Regions from separate parts of the Homo sapiens genome. Here region 1 is linked to region 2. Evidence: fine-mapped expression QTL. A gene starts in region 2. The other region holds a variant in brackets. All regions are shown on one strand. Distances are between the middles of the regions.

The links. PIP is the estimated chance that this variant, and not a neighbour inherited with it, causes the effect. A credible set is the group of variants that fine-mapping cannot tell apart.
Region 1: its variant is the best candidate, but not a certain one, in a credible set for the expression of ANO3 in pancreatic islets (van de Bunt 2015, PIP 0.60).

The regions. Positions count from the first base shown.
Region 1 is chr11:26,469,927-26,474,328 of GRCh38, forward strand. The region is part of intron 4 of ANO3 (anoctamin 3); the gene reads left to right. Among named protein-coding and RNA genes, the nearest start is that of MUC15, 100 kb to the right of the region's middle. The variant T/C (reference allele first, on the strand shown) is at 2,287.
Region 2 is chr11:26,329,543-26,333,944 of GRCh38, forward strand. It overlaps ANO3 (anoctamin 3), which reads left to right and starts at 2,588. Exons shown (of 27, transcript NM_031418.4): 1 at 2,588-2,779. The coding sequence starts at 2,734. It overlaps LOC105376598 (a long non-coding RNA gene), which reads right to left and starts at 2,432. Exons shown (of 3, transcript XR_931138.3): 1 at 2,320-2,432; 2 at 1,978-2,093.

The DNA of each region.
Region 1 (4,402 bases), 140 kb after region 2:
ATCAGTATTAGGTTTTGTTGTACTTTTAAACTATAAGCTATCATTTTTATTCCTTGCTGGCCAATATGTACATTGAGCCAAATTTTCTGGAAAACAATTTCACAAGGAAGGTTCAGTACCTAAAGGTAATTTTGCCCTTTGATTAGTTCTAGGAATTTATGCAGAGAATGCAATTAGAAGTTAGCCAAATTTCTGGGTGTGGTAGCTCATGCCTATAATCCCAGCACTTTGGGAGGCTGAGGAGGGCAGATAAGTAATCTGGAGTGTGAGCCCAGGAGTTTGAGAACAGGCTGAGATACACAGTGAAACCCTGTTTCTACAGAAAAAATACAAAAATGATCCGGGTATGGTGGCACATACCTGTAGTCCCAACTACTCGGGAGACTGAGGCAGGAGGATCACTTGAGCCTGAGAGGTGGAGGCTACAGTGAGCCATGGTTATACAACTGCATTCCAACCTGAGAGAGAGAGAGAGAGGGAGACCCTCTCAAAAAAAAAACAGAAAAAAAAAAAAGCAAGAAGTTAGCCCAAATAATTCTGTTTAAGAATGTTTCTCACATTGTAATTTGTGGTGGGGGAGGACCACTTCCAGAGTCAAGAGTAAATGATAACATTTAAAATAGTAATTCGTAATGCCCTCAGACAAGGCAGTACTATGTTGAAAATCTCTAAACTATTTAAGGATAATAGGACATGATCACAGTGTATAATTATATAATAAAGTGGCTGTAAAAAAATGTGCAGTATAATGCCAATTCTATAAAAATATCTAGCTGGTTTTCATGGGGAAAATATTTAGAATGATATACAAGAGATGTTTATAGTTTTTAACACCGGGTGGTAAAATTCAAAGGACATAAAACTTAAGTATTCATAGATTTAAGCCATAAATATTATAATATCATTACCTTTTTACAATCTCATACAGCTAATAAATGACTGAGCCAGGATTTAAAATAAGATAGTCTTGTTTTCCAAACAGTTTTTCCATTTTGTTACACTGGCATGACAATAGCCATTCAGGACTTCACCTTTTTTAGCCCAATAACCATGGTAAGAAGCATTTCAGTTTCTTTGTCCTAATATGCACTGATCACTTTTGCACCAGAAGCTGTGGTAAGCACTTTATATACATTATCTAATTTAAGTTTCACAATAATTCAATGACATTAGGTAGTAATACTCTCATTTTGACAAACAAGAAAATAAGGAATTAACAGAAACGTTTATTGCCCAAGTCTGTAAGCTAGGTGGAACCAGAGCTGCACTGTGGTGTGTCTCTTTAACTGTAGACTCGGCTTTTCTGTGTCCAGTTCAATCTCTGAGATATACTCTCAGATTTATCTCTTTCCAAAACCCTGAAACATTACTCTGAAGTAAGGCAGCTCTAAATTGTGTGGCTAATTTACAACCTCCTGTAACTAGATTGACCTGTTTGTAATTTATTCTTGTATCAACAAACCCCTAAGTAAAAATAGATAATTTGTTACAAATATAATATCACTAAACCTCAACAAAAGTAGTCAAATAATAGAAAGTTTCTATTCCTTAGGATCAAATAATAATAAGTAGACTAAATATTTTCAACTGAATCTATTACAGTATGGGAACTCCCCTTACCAATCAAAATATGAAATAAGCAGCAACACCACCACCATCACAAAACAAATAAAACTGCACAAAAGCTCCTACAGCTGCCAACAGTTGTGTGTAGAGCTGCAATATGTCTATAGCAGAGGGCTAGGAAGTCATGACATGAGACGATTTACCTGAGAGAATGAAATTAGGTGAGAGATGGATTTGTTGGGGTAGATGCCTTTAGTTCCCAGAAAGACTATAAGGGGAAAAAAATGTGCCTATTTAGGAAGTCGTATTTCATATATGATACAAAGAAACAAAAAATAAGTCAAAGGTGTTTTCTCTCCCCTGACACTAATGTCTCAGTAATTAAACACATAGAGGTTTCTCGAATCACCAATTTGTTTTTCCCATGAGTACTTAAGAATTTATTTTGGAAGATATATCTCCTAAGCCTCCCTGAAGGATGTTAGCTCTAAAATGAGAGCTGCAATAACTTCTCTGCAAAAAAAGTATACATAGTTTGATGGGATGTGAAAGTAAATTCAATAAATTAATGTATGGGCATTCCAGTTAAATGGTGCAGATAATGGTTCTACTTGATATTTAAACATTCAATCAATCACAGGCTCAAATCAAATAGTTCTCTAGTTGTTCAGACATGAAAGCAGCCAGAGAAGACAGATCAGAAACCGTGTTATTTGAGCA[T/C]ACTGAAAGTCAAATCTACCTCCTTAATCTGTCACCTCCAAGCCCTCCAGGCTGTGAACACTGGATTGGAAGTTTCAATATTAATAATAATAATGTTAAATGATTACAACAGCTAACATTTACCAGGGATCTTAACAGGGATTTTAATGACTTCTACTTTTCTATCATCACAACTCTAAAATGTAAGGTCTATTTTTACCCCCATTTCATAGGTGAGGAAATGAAGGCTTAGATGGCTACGTAACTTTCCTGTTATCACACAGCTGGTAAGGAGGAGGCAGGAATTATATACAGGGACCATGCTGTCAAGCACTGTGCTACACTGCACGTAATGGAGGTGTGTGCAAGGGACTATAGAAACCATGAGACAAGTGAATTGGGTAGTTAGGGGTCATGTTCACATTACTGGAAAATTATGTTTATTAGGCAGCATGAATATTGTGGGTTTTTTCAATGTTTTATACTTAAGAAAATATAATAAAATTGAGGCTCCTGTGCTTAGTTAGATCCTGATAAATTTTAAAACACTTGTCCCTAGCTTGCGGCTTATAGCCCTTCATCTCCCCATGTCATCTTTCTCCATGTATTTCCGCACACAGCCTTCTTAACCTCACCAGTCAATCAAAATATGAATATTTTGAGGAATTATCACTGTAGAGAAGAAAATACCTACAGAATAAAGCACTGTTGTGTTTACTGAATAGTTTCTGACACTTCTGTTTTAAAAAACTAATTCTTGTTTTGTTTGTGGTGGTTGACTTCTTGCATGATGCAAACCAGGATTCCAGATGAGGGTTTCAGTCACGGAAACCCATTTGCTTTCATTAATCCCTTCATGCCACAGACAATTTAAACCTACATATTAGAGTAATATACCATTTGTTCTTTAACTGTTTCAAACATTGTGTGAAGTTATTTTTTCTATTTCTTGAACCTGCTAGAAAATCAATTTTAAAGCATGCTTATTAACTCAAGACCATATACATTAAGTGGTTACTTCTTAGGTTCAGTGTCTTGTCAGTTCCAATTACAAGCTGCCCTACAGAGGCATTTTTAAAACAGAAATAAATGTAATCCTCTGTTGCATCTCTTATGTGGATGTTAAGTAAATGAGGACAAAAGCATTCAATTTTATTTGCTTGTTTACCTTTAGGTGACAGTTAATTCCTGTGCTCTCAGATTACAATCATATCATTATGTGCAGCTCAGAGACAATACAATGCAATGTCAAGTTGAACACAGGCAGGATTTTTCAGAAACCACAAAGCTTTCCATTATACCTTTCTCCAGTGAACAAGAAAATGAGGCAATTTCCTTTAAAACCAGAAAAAAAAATTACAGGAATTCCTGGTGAACTCCACTCCGCTATCAAAAAAGTGTTACCTAGTTCACCGTTTAAAAAGTTAGTATTTTCCAGACCACTATTATCAAACTGAAACACACCTCCCACCTCCCATGTTAATCTGCCCAGCTCAAATGGCACATACAATAGATTATTAATAATTGACAGTAAAATCATAAAAATGTCACTGACGTTATATGATTAAATGTCACTTAGGTGACTCATGCATAGACATTAACCAATGACACATGAAAGCAGCCCCCTATTCCACCCTATAACCAACTCCTAAAATGAAATTAATAAAAAATACAGATGTTCTTATAAAGAGATGAGTTATCTTTAAAAAAAAATGATTATTCAAACTCTGGCATTTAGAGAGTAGGCTAAAAACCCTCCAGTCAAATGCTTTGTGTAGCACTCAGTATGTAACATTCTAGTTAATGGAAAAAGCAGGCGGTGAAAGGGAGAACTTTCAGTTGTCACACTGAAGAGTGCTTTAAAGAAGATTGTCATTTGAGACTGTTGTCAGCAATGAAGGATTCCAAATGCAGCTGAACTCAGAATTCTGACTGTGGTATGTTTAAAAGTGCATCAATCTAGGAATTCTATACTATTTTTCTATTTTCTTAAACATATGTAGAGAAGCCAATTGAGAGAAATTAATATTGATTTCAGAATTGGAATTGAGTGTATCTGTTATTTCAAAATACTAGATATATATTTTAAAGTAAAGTATGATCTAAATGTGTTATTTTTAAAATATCTGTGTTTATC
Region 2 (4,402 bases):
AACTTTATGACAAGATAGTTTAATCATAGCTGCACCAAGGAGGTTAGGGTGCAAGGGTGTTAGAAATAATAACAAACATTCTTTCCTTGGAAAAAAATCCAATGAGGTTCAAAATCTCAACTCATTTCTAGTTCTGGCAGATACATATTTGCCTCCTGCTGGGTTTTGGATCAGGGAGTAGGTTGGAGAAAATCAGGGATCAACAGAAAAAGATCTTAGGAAGGTAAAGGTGATACCTGTGCCTAGAAATGTGGAATAGAGGGACTTAAATTTTTTTTTTTTTTTTTTGAGACGGAGTCTCGCTCTGTTTCCCAGGCTGGAGTGCGGTGGTGCGATCTAGGCTCACCGCAAGCTCCGCCTCCCGGGTTCAAGCCATTCTCCTGCCTCAGCCTCCTGAGTAGCTGGGACTACAGGCGCCCGCCACCGCCCGGCGAGGGGACTTTAATTCTTTTAACTAGTCCTGCTGACCAGGGATTGAATTAAAGTTTAAATTTCAAAAATATTTCTGATTCTAAAACCGGTGATTTAAAAGGGGGTTTTAAACATTTAAATGAGATCTACAGGGGTCATAACTGACTAGTAAGTATTGGGTGTTAGTTTTCTGCCATTCTTAAATTCATTGTCTAATCCTCACGTAGGAGAATTGGGTTGCATTAGAATCAATGAGTTGGTTCACATCAGAATGATCTGTAAGCTGAGTTCTATCAGAATTTTAACTCTGGATGAACAAAATTTAAAAAAAACATCCTCGAGCAAGTCATTTATTCTTCTCGGTTTCAATGCCCTCATCTATACAATATCTGTATTAAAAGCCCTTACGGAGACAGTCTCTGAACTGTGTTTTAGATCTTCATTTGGAGGTGAACTCACACTGAGTTCATTGTCTGTAACCAAGTATTTCTTCAATGCCTGCATACTGAGCTCTTATTGAATGCTCAGCATTTCTTTCTGGAAAGACCATTATGATACATTAAAGAAGGTAGCACATTGTTTGCTCTTCCTCCCACTGAGAGTAGAATCCAATTTCGCTTTTTGCTTCAGATGACTTTAAGACCAGTTACTGAACAATCAAGAGAGACTCTGAGAGATAACTGCCTGTCTGAATCTAGCCCACCTGCAAAATCCATAAGTAATAATAATAAATTTTAGTTTACAGCTTAGTTTCAGGGTAGTTTGTTATGCATCCATAAATAATTGGAGCATCTGTTTGTTCAAAGCTATATTCCCCTCATTCTTTTGTATCATGCACCACAGATGAATCAAACAGCATACAATAATAACTCAATATTTTTGAGGTATCGAAAGTTTGGAAATTTCTGCATATTTTTTATCTGCTTTTATTTGGATTATTCACCTGATTCTGAGTTGATTCCATAAAACTTCAAAACTGAGGAAGCAACGGACTCTCACGATGTGTCTGTTCAATAACATCTTACATCTTCCAGGAAGAACTTAGGGCTTTGAATCAGGGAGCAGAGATAGATGGAGGAAAGGAGATCCTACTGAAAAATGTGTTCAGCTAGCTTCTGGTCCTATTTTGGCCACTGCAGTTTGGTCTTTCAAAAGTTACTTCAAAGTGGGAGCTGAATGATGAGAACACACGGACACAATGGGGGAACAACACACACTGGGGCCTGTTGGAGGGGGAGGGAGAGCATTAGGAACAATAGCTAATGGCTGCTGGGCTCAATACCCGGGTGATGGGGTGATCTGTGCAGCAAACCACCATGGCATACGTTTACCTATGTAACAAACCTGCGCATCCTGCACATGTACCACGAACTTAAAATACATGGTGAAGATATAAATAAATAATAAAATAAAACTTCTCAAACTAAACAAAAAGAGTTACTTCACTTCTTTGGGTATCGGGTGCCTTCTCTTTCAAATAAGGTGTTGATTTATGTGGTCTTGAGAAATCTTTGTTGCTCTGATCTTAAGTTTCTTTTTATAATATTAGAATCATAGTTTACCTACATTACAGGGCTTTTATGAAGATTAAATCGAGCATCGTGGGTAGTGTTTTTTCAGCCCCTGTGACTAAGTAGGTTATAAATGGTCCTCAGTCATCATCATCATAAATGATTCAAGGCCTGAATGGCAGAAGAAGAAGAGGAAAACTCAAGTGAAAAGTGCTAGACATAGAACACAGCTTACCTAATAAAACATGCTACTGGCTAACTAAGCTGGGGTGGCTTTCTGCCCCCTCTACTTAAATTTAAGAAAGAAAAACAGAAACGTCTCTGCATCTGCCACTGCATACCCTCTCAGAGCACAGACCAACTTTGCCCTTCCTTAAAAGTCCCAGGGTTTACCTACCAACTTTTAGGAAATAAATAACCAGCCTCAAAGCTTGGCAAAGAGGGCATCAGTATCAGCTCTAGAGGTTTGCTCCGATTTATATCTCCTCCTCCAGTAAAGTCTTCTGCTCCCACTCCCAGCCAACCCCGCTCAACGCCCACCCCTCACTGTGGCACTGGACGCGCGGGGGATGCGGGGTTGTTCCCAGAGTAGCCGCTAAGGGGAGCCGGACGCTAGACCGCCCTCCCGCGTTCCCATGACAACGACACCGGCGGGCGCGTAGCCTGGAGAGCGAAGTGCCGGCTACAGCAGGTGTCGGATTGCAGTGCGCTCGCTGAGGCTCCGGACCTTGGAGCGTCTAGAGTCTGGCTACTGTTCCTCCGCCTCCCTCTCGGGCAGCTCCCTAAGCCGGCTGGGACGCGCAGAGTGAAAATGGTCCACCATTCAGGCTCCATTCAGTCCTTTAAACAGCAAAAAGGTCAGTTGGAATCTTGCTCCCCTCTCCCTGCGGGCGTCACTTCCCCCCTGCATGCCCTTGCAGTTGTGTAGGAGCATCCTTTGCAGGCTTATGCGACACAGAGGTGGGGAACTCTGTGAAGTTAAAAAAAAAAAAAAAATTAAATTCCTCTTCACTCTGCATCCTAGATGAGTGATTTTCTGAGCCTCCGCACAGTGCCTGGGAGTATCGGAATTCGTCATTTCAGGACTTGACTTAATGTATATCTCTGTGAAGACTGTTTCAATGCACTGCAGTAAACCCGCTTAGTAGGGATTGTCCGAATAGCTCAGTAGAGCTCTGAGGGGTGAGGACAGAAATGTTCAACAATATCTGCCGTCTTCTGTGGTTCAAATGTTGAGTAATCTTCACAAAAGTGTGTCTACTCCTTGAGACGCATTTACACAATCATAAGATAAATGAATTCTTGGGGGAGTTCCAGAGTTGGCCTGTTGCAGTTAAAGGGGCTCTGTCACTTCCTTGGGAAAATTTATTGTTTGCCCATGTCCCATGCTTGATTCTGGGTTTCAAGTTCTTGAGGTTAGGTTTCTCTTCTAGGGGCTTCGTATTATGTCTTTTAGTTTCTCCCTCAAGTTTCTTGCTGGGCATAGTGACAAGAATCTGTATGTTCAAGTTATCCTCACTCTTTGATCTTTGTTTCTTATTTGGTTTAAAAGGCTTTTTACAGAGCATTTTTATTTTGAGGCACATTCACAGTTTTTGGAGTTTTATTATCCAGAAGCATTAATTAACACAATTGCCACTTTGCTGAATTAATAATGGTAATTATGATACAGTTAACCATAGAGTGCCTTAGATGTGTGAATTCTGGAATGCTGAATTTGTTCATTCAAAGTAAATATTTACTTAAATATTCTCATCCCCACCCTCCAGATATTATTTGTATTTCTTTCATCAACAGTTGTTTTTATGTAGCTCTTTGACTTTTTTTTTTTTTTTGAGGTGGAGTCTCGCTCTGTTGCCCAGGCTGGAGTGCAGTGGCGCGATCTCGGCTCACTGCAAGCTCTGCATCCCAGGTTCATGCCATTATCCTGCCTCAGCCTCCTGAGTAGCTGGGACTACAGGCGCCCGCCACCAAGCCCAGCTAATTTTTTTGTGTTTTTAGTAGAGACGGGGTTTCACCGTATTAGCCAGGATGGCCTCCATCTCCTGACCTCGTGATCCGCCCGCCTTAGCCTCCCAAAGTGCTGGGATTACAGGTGTGAGCCACTGTACCCGGCCCTTGACTTTTTTGTTTGTTTTTAACAAAAACTAGATTAACACACAAGAAACAATTTCGAAGGGATTCCTGCGTAAGACAGAATATGGGACTGACTGAGTTTCCAGTTCCATAATTCTGTACTCAGTTCAAGCCCAAGTTCTCTAGGATGTTTCAAATATATGTTGAAATTGGGAGTGATGTGTGAGACTGTAGGGGTAGACAAAAATTTCACCTAGTATGCACTTCTACTTCAACTCTAAACATTTCAAATAAAGTTAAACTGCTTCAAGAAGTTGTGTTCTCTTTAATCATGGTTTTAAACATACATAAACTTTCAGAATGAAGACAAAGATGATAGGAACTTTGCAACAGCCTCACAGAAT